Linked DNA regions of Homo sapiens: region 2 is linked to region 1. The links come from fine-mapping of genetic effects on gene expression. A gene starts in region 1. The other region holds a variant in brackets. All regions are shown on one strand. Distances are between the middles of the regions. Region 1 holds the start of POLA2 (DNA polymerase alpha 2, accessory subunit). Region 2 overlaps POLA2 (DNA polymerase alpha 2, accessory subunit).

Region 1 (5,367 bases):
GAGACATAATGGTGGTAGCTGATCGAAGTTTTCTAATGCTTCTACATTTTTCAGCAAATAATAGAAATTTGTCAGCTGAGAGTGAGGGTGGGACAGAAGGATGTTACAGGAGAAGGTGGAAAACAATCATCTGGAAGACTCAGAGTAAAGAGACCAGGGGCCTGGCGCAGTGTAATCCCAGCACTTTGGGAGGCCAGGGTGGGCGGATCACCTGAGGTCAGGAGTTGAAGACCAGCCTGGCCAACATGGTGAAACCTTGTCTCTACTGAAAATACAAAAAGTAGAACAGGTGTGGTGGCTCACACCTATAATCCCAGCACTTTGGGAGGCCGAGGTGGGAGGATCACTGGAGGTCAGGGGTTCGAGATCAGCCTGCCCAACATGGCGAAACCCCATCTCTACTAAAAATACAAAAAATTAGCCGGGCGTGGTGGCGGGAGCCTGTAATCCCAGCTACTCGGGAGGCTGAGGCAGGAGAACCGCTTGAACTCGGGAGGCAGAGGTTGCAGTGAGCCAAGATTGCACCATTGCACTCCAGCCTGGGCAATGAGAAACTCCATCTCAAAAAACAAAACAAACAACAACAAAAAAAACAGGGAAATACGGTTGACTGTCAGGAAACATTAAGGTGCCACTGAAGTTACTGATGATCCAAAGTCCACAATTCCAAAGCCATTGCCATGAGATGAAAGCAACTGGCATCTTGGCCTGAAGCCTTTACAAATCTGGTTCACATAACTAATTTCTCTCATGCTGATTTCATGCTTACCACATACATTTCTGACTATGATCAGGTTTTCCACTTAAGTCTTTTTTTTTTTTTTGAGACAGAGTCTCGCTCCTGTTGCCCAGGCTAGAGTGCAATGGTGTGATCTCGGCTCACCACAACCTCTGCCTCTCATGTTCAAGCGATTCTTCCGCCTCAGCCTCCTGAGTAGCTGGGATTACAGGCATGCGCCACCACGCCCGACTAATTTTGTATTTTTAGTAGAGACAGGGTTTCTCCATGTTGGTCAGGCTGGTCTCAAATTCTCGACTTCAGATTATCCACCTGCCTTGGCCTCCCAAAATGCTGGGATTACAGGCGTGAGCCACCACACCTGGCTAGTCTTCTTTTAAAAAGAGAAGGACCGAGCCTGCTGGCTTATGCCTGTAATCCCAGCACTTTGGAAGGCCAAGGTGGGTGGATCACTTGAGGTCAGGAGTTCGAGAGCAGTCTGGCCTACATGGTGAAACCCCTTCTCTACTAAAAGTACAAAAAAAAATTAGTCGGGCCTGGTGGCGGGCGCCTGTAATCCCAGCTACTTGGGAGGCTGAGGCAGGAGAATCGCTTGAACCTGGGAGGCGGAGGCTGAAGTGAGCCGAGATTGCACCACTGCACTCCAGCCTGGGTGATAAAACAAGACTGTCAAAAAAAAAAAAAAAAAAAAAGAGAGAGAGAGAAGGCACTGGGCATGAAGACTTGAAGTATTCTGGTTTCTGAAAGGAATTTCTCACCATAAATTAACGTTTCGTTATCTTTTTGTATATAAGAAGTTCAAAGTGTTGAGTGGTTAAGGCAGGTGCACATTCATACCGATTCTAGAACTTCCACATCTCCCAGGCTTTGCTTCAAATGACTCCTTACACTGCTCTACAGCTTGACCAACACGATGGACCCGTATGATGCAGCACGGGACTCCAAGGCAGGACACCTGGCTTCACAGACAGCTCAGGCAATTAGCTTTCCTTGTCTGTTTCTCCATCTGTAAAGCTCCCTAAAGCTCCTTCCACAGCTCAAATTCAATTTTAGGAACCTACCTCAAGGGATTCATATTTGCACAGACCACCAACAGCTATGATAAAATAACTGATGGATCAGCAGAGGTTTAAGGTGTAGGCTGGAAAGGGAGGAGCCAAGAATAAAAAGCTACATTTCAAAACCCCCACATCTGTTGCTTTGTTACCGGGGCTTCAACAATTTCCAAACTCAGGTGCCACCAGTGCCTAGTCTCTATCTAGCACATCCCAATTCCGCCTTTCGGGAACTTCGAGTTGGTTTAAAATCGTGCTGCATATTCCTATTTTTGATTTGGCATCCAAGCGGTACCCGGTGGGCATTTCAAAGTCCCCACATCCTAAATCTCAAAACTCAAGTTTGATTCTTCATCTCACAGCCACCGAGAACTCTGCTCCAGGGGAAGTGGAAATTGGAAGCGCTCCACTTTCGGTTCTAGGCGCCGAGGAACTCGGGCGAGAGCGTGGAGCACGGCTGCAGGGCGGGAGGGGTGCGGGACTCACATTTCTCAATTAGAGCCTCCTCGCAGTCTAGGCCGAAGATCTGCAGCTCCTCCGCCAGCTGCTGGGCGGATGCGGACATGGTCGCCCAAGCCAGGGGCCGGGGAGCCGGCCCACCCAGCTCCGACCTGCGCCCAAGAAGCCCACGGGGGTGGCGAGCGATGAGCTCCTCGCCCTCTTATCCTTCCCCCCTCCGCGGACCGTGACAGGAGGTGACTGGCCCAAGCAAGACCTCAGACCGTCAGAAGGCCCCGGCCGTCGGTCACAGAGAAATACTTTTTTTAAAAAATGAAGGGGTGGCTCCCAAACGCCCTGAATGGAGGGAGCAGAAATCTCGAGAGGACGCTCTCCTGGTGAGAACGTCCTGCTTCCCAAAAGCTACCGCTGAGCTTCTCAGTGACGGTGGCAGAACTGAGTGGCCGGAAAAACCCGCCAAATGGTTTGTGCAGTGCACGCATGCGCGAAACCGGGAGCCAACCCCAAACCTTCCCCTTGCTTTCCCCGGCTCATTCCGGAACCCCACGCGCGCACGCGCGGCCCAGGGCGCGTGCGCATCAGCGGGCGTGTGGGCGTCTCTACGCACGCGCCTGGCGGCCCGCCAGTCAGCAGCTGCGCAGTTCTCTCTCACGGCGCGAGAATGCCGGTTGTGACTCGCAACGCCCGGGAGTTGCCTACAAGGAAACTGAGTCTGTGTGCGGATGCCTGTTTTCTGGGCATCGGCTGCTCGATAAAACTCAGTGGCGCATGTTTGTCACCCTTTTGCCCTGTTCCGTGGTGCGCAGGCGTTGTCGTGCGCGTGCCTTCGACTATCTAAAACTTACTGTACCCCCTTCTCCATTCCCCTTGTCATCTCTGCCTGTTGTGCCCTTGGTTCATCCTAAAAGAATGGCTTCAGTAGGGAATCTGGTTGCCATGGTTATTATCGTGCTTATCACCGTGGTGCCAGCCACAGTGATGGGTATGTTTTCTGAATCTGGGGCATTTGGGGGGATATGAGGTGGGAAGGTGACGGATAATTTAGTTTTGGACACGTTAAGTTTGAGTGCCTCTGGGATTTCCAGGTAGAGATTCCCAGTGGGTGACTGGAGGCTTGGGAGTGAAGGTAGGTCACTCAAGGATAGAGTTTAGGGGTAAGATGAGAAGAGGGTTCTCCCCTTGAAATACACCGTAATTCTTTGAGCCAAAAATCTCAACCGTAGGCGTCATACAATGCTGGTGGGATGGTATAGAGCGTTTCGAGAAAACAATTTAGCAATATGTATCAGGAACCTTTAAAATGTCCATCCCAGGCCAGGTGCGGTCACTCACGCCTGTAATCCCAGCATTTGGGAGGCCGAGGCAGGCGGATCACTTTGTAGCAGGACGAGCCACAGACAAAACTCCTCAGACACCCGAGTTAAAGAAGGAAGGGGTTTATTCGGCTGGGGTCATCGGCAAGACTCCTGTCTCACCAGCCGAGCTCCCCGAATGAGCAATTCCTGTCCCTTTTAAGGGCTCACAACTCTAAGGGGGTGCGCCTGAGAGGGTCGTGATCAATTGAACAAGCAGGGGGTACGTGACTGGGGGCTGCATGCACCAGTAATTAGATCAGAACAAAACAGGATAGGGATTTTCACAGTGCTTTTCTATACAGTGTCTGTAATCTATAGATAACATAACTGATTAGGTCAGGGGTCCATCTTTACCAAGCCTAGGGTGTGAGGCCGGGCTGTCTGCTTGTGGATTTCATTTCTGCCTTTTAGTTTTACTTTTTCTTTCTTTGGAGGCAGAAATTGGGCGTAAGACAATATGAGGGGTGGTCTCCTCCCTTAACTTGAGCCCAGGAGTTCAAGATCGGCCTGGGCAACGTGGCGAAACCCCTTCTCTACAAAAAATTAGCGGGCGGTGGTGGCGGGTTCTTGTGATCTCAGCCACTCTGGGGGCTGAGGCTGGAGGAGCGCTTGAGTTCGGGAGGTCGAGGCTGAAGTGAGTCATGATCGCCTCACTGCACTCCAGCCTGGGCGACAGAGCAAGATCGTGTCTCAAAAAGCAAACAAAGGCCGGGTGCGGTGGCTCACGCCTGTAATCCCAGCACTTTGGGAGGTCGAGGCGGGAGGATCACGAGGTCAGGAGATCGAGACCATCCTGGCTAACACGGTGAAACCCCGTCTCTACTAAAAAAAAAAAAAAGAAAAAAAAAAGAAAGCCTAGCGTGGTGGCGAGCACCTGTAGTCCCAGCTACTTGGGAGGCTGAGGCAGGAGAACGGCGTGAACCCGGGAGGCGGAGCTTGCAGTAAGTCGAGATTGTGCCACTGCACTACAGTCTGGGCAACAGAGCGAGACTCCGCCTAAAAAAAAAAAAAAGCAAACAAAAACCGAAGTATGTGTGACCTCTAGTCAGCCAATGGCTGCTTGGCTGTATTTTGAATTTAGGCCTAGTTAGCCACTCCGGATCCATCATGAACCTCTTTTGGGGTTCACACCCTTAAGCCTCAAATATTTACTCTCTGGCTCTTTACGGAAAATGTTTGCAGTTTCCCACCATCAGCAATAACCAATGGATATCAAATGTGTTACATACATATTTTTCCCAACCTGTCTTTTAACTTTGTGGGTTTTTTTTTCTACCACACAACACTGTGCAATTCTTTTCCTGTATGGGTTTTAGGTTTCCTGCTTTGTTTAATAAGGTCTCCTCGACCTAAGCTTATGCAAATATTCTTCCAATTTTTGTTTTATTAATTTTACTTACGTTTTGCCTTTAGTTCGCTAATCCACCTAGAATTAATCTTATTTGTGATGTGAGGAAGGATTTAGCTTTGTTTTATTCCTGACAAACAGCCAGCATGTCAGCAGTTATACTTAGTAAATAAAACATTCTTCAACTGACTTGAATTGTGATCTTTCATGTATCAAGTCCCCATAAACACTTGAATCTGTTTCTGGATTTTCTGTTTTATTCCACTGATTTATTTGTTGTCTTTTCTGTGTCAATATATTTTGATTGCAGGAGTAAATCAAGTGGGTTTTAGATCTGTGACATAGCCAAGTCCTAAAACAATAGTAGCTGAGACAAAATAGAAGTTTATTTCTCTCGTCAGATAAAATAAT
Region 2 (5,367 bases), 35 kb before region 1:
GCAGCTCTCCCTCTCCCTCTCAGAGACTGGAACCCTAAAGGGAAGCCACGAGGCGGGTAAGGGAGGGCGGCTCCTTCTGCCAGGGCAGAGGCAGGGCAAGGGCATGGGCATGGGAGGCAAATCCTGGCAAGAGCTCGGGACTATTTCTTCAGGACCGTCTAGTTGGTGTCTCAAGGGCAGGGGCCATGACCAGATCAGGGAGAGGCCACCAAAGGGGGCTGAGGCAGACGGGCCTGACCTCCTGGGCACCCTCCCACCCTCCGTCACTGACACGCCCCCAGAGCCTGCTTGAGAATACCTGGGATGACAGATGCCTGGGGAAACTGGTGACACAGCTGAAGTGGGGTCTAGGGACGGTCAGCCAGCAGTCACTTGGCACCTTCCTGACAAGAGCAAAAAGGAACTGTCTGGTGGCAGAGGCACGCCTGCCAGACCTGTCTGCTCTGGTGTTAGCATCCCGCTTTCTCTTTGTCTGACTCTTAAATGCCTGCTCCGGCCCTCCCGGCCCTCCCAGATCATTTCCAACAGTCACACGACTGGTATCCAGGCAACCATTGCCTGGGCTCCCAAAATTCCACATCCGGAGGCTGACAAGTCATGGTGCCCCCGTGGAACACAGCTGGCTGCTTCATGTGTGGAGGAGCTGGGGGAGAACGGAAAAATCCACTCCCCACGCAGGGATGAGTTTCTAATTCTTGGCCTCAGAGGAGGTGCCTATAAAACTAATGAAATAAAACAGCTGCTCCTTGTGTTTAAAGGAAGACCTTTTACTGTACCCTGGTCAGGTCTGGGGCTCGATTCCATTTCACCGTCAGAAAGGTGAGAGGCAAAAGTTGGCCACTGTTAGGTCATCTATTTATCTCGGAGTCAAGGCATAGACACCAGCAGCTTGCTGCCCCCTTGCCCACTTCCCTGCCCTGACAGCTGGGGTTTGCCGGTCTTGGCTCTGGCATGTGAGGCAGGACAGCCTGCCAGCTTAGGGCAGGAAGCCACTCCACGTCTGGCCAGTGACAGCTTTTCCCCAGATGCCAGGACATAGGGGCATGGGACGTGCTGTGAACCCTGGAAGGCCTGACCCTGTCTGAGTGTTCTGGGCTGCAGGCAAGCCCTGGCTACTGCGCGACTTGGCAAAGCAGCTGCCACCAGGACTCCAGCTTTGGAACAGCCCAGCGAGGCGGCCCCCTCCAGATGGAGAGGTCAGGCTGGGACCACAGCATGCATGTGAGGAACTGCGCAGGGAGGCCCAGGCATGCAGCCAGTTGCTTGCTCTGCAGCCCAGCTCTAGGGCCCACCCAGTGCACCTCTGCAGCATAGAGGTCACTGGGGCCTTTGGGGGATGAGGAGTGGGGCTGAGAGTTACCCACTGGACAGGACTGGGGCTGGATAGAAACCCAGTGTGACTGACACTCTGCCTTCTCTGGACATAGGTCAAATAGGCAACATTCTTTGTCTACTACCAGGATAAAGAAAATAGAAGAAAGGGGCCGGGCGCGGTGGCTCACGCCTGTAATCCCAGCACTTTGGGAGGCTGAGGCGGACAGATCACAAGGTCAGGAGATCGAGACCATCCTGGCTAACATGGTGAAACCCCATCTCCACTAAAAATACAAAAAATTAGCCAGGCGTGGTGGTGGGTGCCTGTAGTCCCAGCTACTCAGGAGGCTGAGGCAGGAGAATGGCATGAACCCGGGCGGCAGAGCTTGCAGTGAGCCGAGATCTCACCACTGCACTCCAGCCTGGGCGACAGATCGAGACTCCGTCTAAAAACAAAATAAATAAATAAAAGAAAATAGAAGAAAGGTCAAACTCAGAAGTCACACTCAGAATTTAATTTCTCCAAAAGTTGTTTCTGTGTTTGATTCATGTAGAAAATCACAAAGCCTTCTCGCCTTTTCTGAGTGGGCGGGATCCACAGCTGGCTTACTTCTGGACACGGAGCATGGACTGAGAAGCAAGAGCTTCCTTCCAGGAGAGGCACCACTCAGAGGCAGGCCCGGCTGCACAAGTCCTCCCTGCTGGGCCTGGTCACTGCAGCTGCCCCTCCCTGGCTGGCTCCTCTCTCCTTTCCCACCCAACTGTTCACCTTGTCACAGGGCTATGTCTTGGCTCTTGGCTAAGACTTTAAGGGCCCACACAGCAGAGAACAGCAGAGGACAGAAGCCTCAGATCCTGACGACCTGCACAGCAATGCATGGGCTCTGCCTCTCTGCCCCGTCCGCTGCCGGCCTCCTAAGGTAGAGTCGGGCGAAGGTGCCTCCCACCTGCCCTTTGGTAAGGCGCCCAGGGTTCACACAGACACAGCCGAGGACATCCTGGGGAGGAGAGGAGAGGTGACAGGTTTGGAGAGCCTCAACTAACTGGGAACCAATGTGAAAAAGAAGTGCCATCACATGGCTGGACCCCAAAGAGGGTTTTAGAAAATGGAAACGAAGGCAACCAAATCACCAGACACATTTTCAGTCACTTTTTTTTTTTTTTTTTTTGAGATGGAGTCTCGCTCTGTTGCCCAGGCTGGAGTGCAGTGGTGAGATCTCAGCTCACTGCAGCCTCGACCTCCCGGGTTCCAGCGATTCTCCTGCCTCAGGCTCCCAGGTAGCTTGGATTACAGGCACCCACACCACCATGCCTGGCTAATTTTTGTATTTTTAGTAGAGATGGGGTTTTACCATGTTGGCCAGGCTGGTCTCAGACTCCTGACCTCAGGTGATCCACCCACCTCGGCCTCCCAAAGTGCTGGGATTACAATTGTCAACCACTGCGCCCGGCCTCAGTCACATATGTTAACTTGTCACTAGAAAGCTTTGAATTCCTTTTAAGTCTTTCAAACAGAAGAATGAGGTGACTTGGCAGAATGACAATCAGCTCCTAAACTTGGAGACAAACCTGATCTAGCTGTTTACTGCTTTCTCATGTGAAAAACTTTTTTTTAACCTCTTGAGATTGAACTAACTCTTGTTTGGCAAGAGGGGGACTGGTCTAGGCAGATTCCTTGTAAGGGACCTAACTCCAAGGCAGGCAGGGCTAAAGGGTGGCAGAGATCAAAATGACCCAATAGCTTCTTCAAGGTATTCCCAGCTGAGCCCACTTGGAGGTCATATCAGAATTTGGGAGGCAGAGGACAGGCAAGTGTACATATGAAATCTTCCCCAGGTCACCTCTATGTGGCCTGGTGAAAGCCCTCATTTGAGGGCCTTCCTAGTCATCTGGGCTCTCGTTCTCTTGGGGAGGGAGGAGAGGACACTGTTTACTCAAGCATTTTACTGACAGAGTTGTTTGTTTTCTGGTCCCACCACCTCCCCAAAGAAACAAGGCCACAGGGCAGGGTGCTAGAGGCCCCATCCCCATCAGC[T/A]GACCCATGAGGGGTGAGTGCCGGGTGGTCTAGAAGGGAAAGTCAAAGACTGGGTTCTGGTGTTTCTGGGAAAAAGCAGAGTTCAAACCTACCTTCACGAAGTACCTCAGCTCTGACGGGATGATGAGGACATCTGGGGTGACAGGCAGCTGTGCGTAAACATAGAACGACTCATAGTCAATGGCCATGTCTTCTTGGGGCGGGTAGAGTGGGTAGTAGCTACAGAGACAGAGAGAAATTGTCAGCACTAGCTGACCGGGGGGCCCCCTTCTCAGACAGAGTCCCCCTAGGTACTGGCTTTCGTGCTGCTGGCATCCACAGACCGACTTTTTCTCTGTGTGTGTGGGGCAGAATGCAGGCTTGTCATCACAGGGTAAAGTTCCCTGCTGGTAGCCTGGTGAAGGCTCTTACAGTCATGCTTGTCATAGCTCCATGACCCCAAGGCACTCTCTCCACAGTCAGGGGTCCCAGCGGCAAGCTCACCTCCTCTGGGTCAAGATGTGCTTGAGTATTCGGCTGAATCTGTCTGAAGTTCCGGAAGAACTGGGAAAGAAAAGAAAGCATGAAAACAGAACTCTGTTTTTCAGCCCATTTCTCTTCAGGGAGGACTGGAGAATTTAATAAACCAGAGAGAAGGTAAATGGCCAAGGCACAGCAACAAGAGGAGGATGCCTCTGGGGAAGTTTAAAGACCCACCCACAAGGAGCTCAGTCTGTCCCCACATGAGGAGGGACGCAGGACACCAGGTTGAGAAGGGAAAGCACAGGAATCCCTCATAATCAAGATCAAGGAAGGCCATTAGCCAGCACCGTACTGTGCAAGAGGATGCAAAGTTGGCACCATCATGAGGCGGGTGTGTAGCCAGGCTGACCTGAATCTCAAACCTCAGCCAAGGAGCCGCACCCGTCTCGCTTCACACGCGAGTCGCTTCACATGCCCCTTCCCATCAAGGATGACGGCAGAACGGAGCTGCCCAACTTCAACTCAACAAATTTGTCAGGGCCTGATTCTCTGCAGAGCTGGATGTTGTACTGGTAGTGAAGAAAATCCTTCAGAGAAAATTCCCAGTTTATCCTCCACAAACAGGATGTCCACATTTGTTTTCAGGTCACAAATTTGGGAAATGAAAAAAAAGGGGAGCAGAAAAGAAAATGTAGATGAATTTTGATGCCTTTAAGTGCAAAGACAGAATGGACGTGGTTCTTTGGGGTCTCAAACGCAGTTTAGAGAGGTGGTAACAGAAACTAATGCATCCAACCCCTCCCCTTGGGTACAGAGAAACTCAGATGGCTAGAGGGTCTGGCACAGCTTGCTGCTTTCAGCTCTCTCTGGTCAAGACCGTTAAGCAGCCCCTTGATTTTCTTGGCTGCAGAAAGGGCTGGGACCAGAAAGCCAGTCATCCTGCTTGGGGCCTGGAACACACTTCTTACCTACTGATCTCCTCGGCCCCCAGGTGGAAAAGCAGATCTGTGGATGTCAAGCCGAAGATCACTCCGTTTATGGAGAGGCTGCAGGGCTCGGACACAAACTGTACTTGCTAAAATGAGAACGGATTGAAACAAACATTTGTATGCCAAAGCTAGAAACATCTTCCCATGAAAGTGGGGGTTGTCTGAGGGCTGGGGAGACCACGGAAAGGGGGACCAAACCAACATACATCAAGCTTTTGGACACATTTGCCTGTTTAAAAAAAGGAGTTTAAGATTCAGGCTGTACGCACACCCTAAAGAGGCCTCTCCACCCTCCCCTTCAGGGCCAGAGCTAGTGGCAGAGGCATGCTGGATTCTGGCTGCCTGCTGGTCAAGGAGTGGGTGCTGCTACCTTTTTGTCCTCTCGAGACAGATCGGAGTAGCTGAAAGGCGGCTGGGGGTACACAGGCTCATGGTGCACATCTCTCAATGACGGGACAAAGACAAGGTGGGAGCCGGAGCTAGTATGGCAAAAGAACAAACAGAAGAGTGAGAAAAGTGAGTGCAGTTGAGTTAGAACAGCTGCGCAACAGGTGGGATGCCTCAGGC

What was found. PIP is the estimated chance that this variant, and not a neighbour inherited with it, causes the effect.
Region 2: its variant is fine-mapped to the expression of POLA2 in whole blood (INTERVAL, PIP 0.93).

Annotation. Positions count from the first base shown.
Region 1 is chr11:65,259,285-65,264,651 of GRCh38, reverse strand. POLA2 (DNA polymerase alpha 2, accessory subunit) reads right to left here and starts at 2,690. Exons shown (of 18, transcript NM_002689.4): 1 at 2,281-2,690. The coding sequence starts at 2,359. RefSeq lists enhancers at 1,779-2,664, 2,421-2,670, 2,665-3,552.
Region 2 is chr11:65,294,065-65,299,431 of GRCh38, reverse strand. POLA2 (DNA polymerase alpha 2, accessory subunit) reads right to left here. Exons shown (of 18, transcript NM_002689.4): 14 at 5,171-5,279; 15 at 4,780-4,886; 16 at 3,833-3,892; 17 at 3,442-3,568; 18 at 747-2,312. The coding sequence ends at 2,163. It overlaps LOC105369344 (a long non-coding RNA gene), which reads left to right. Exons shown (of 3, transcript XR_007062727.1): 3 at 3,808-5,367. Among named protein-coding and RNA genes, the nearest start is that of CDC42EP2, 18 kb to the left of the region's middle. The variant T/A (reference allele first, on the strand shown) is at 3,350.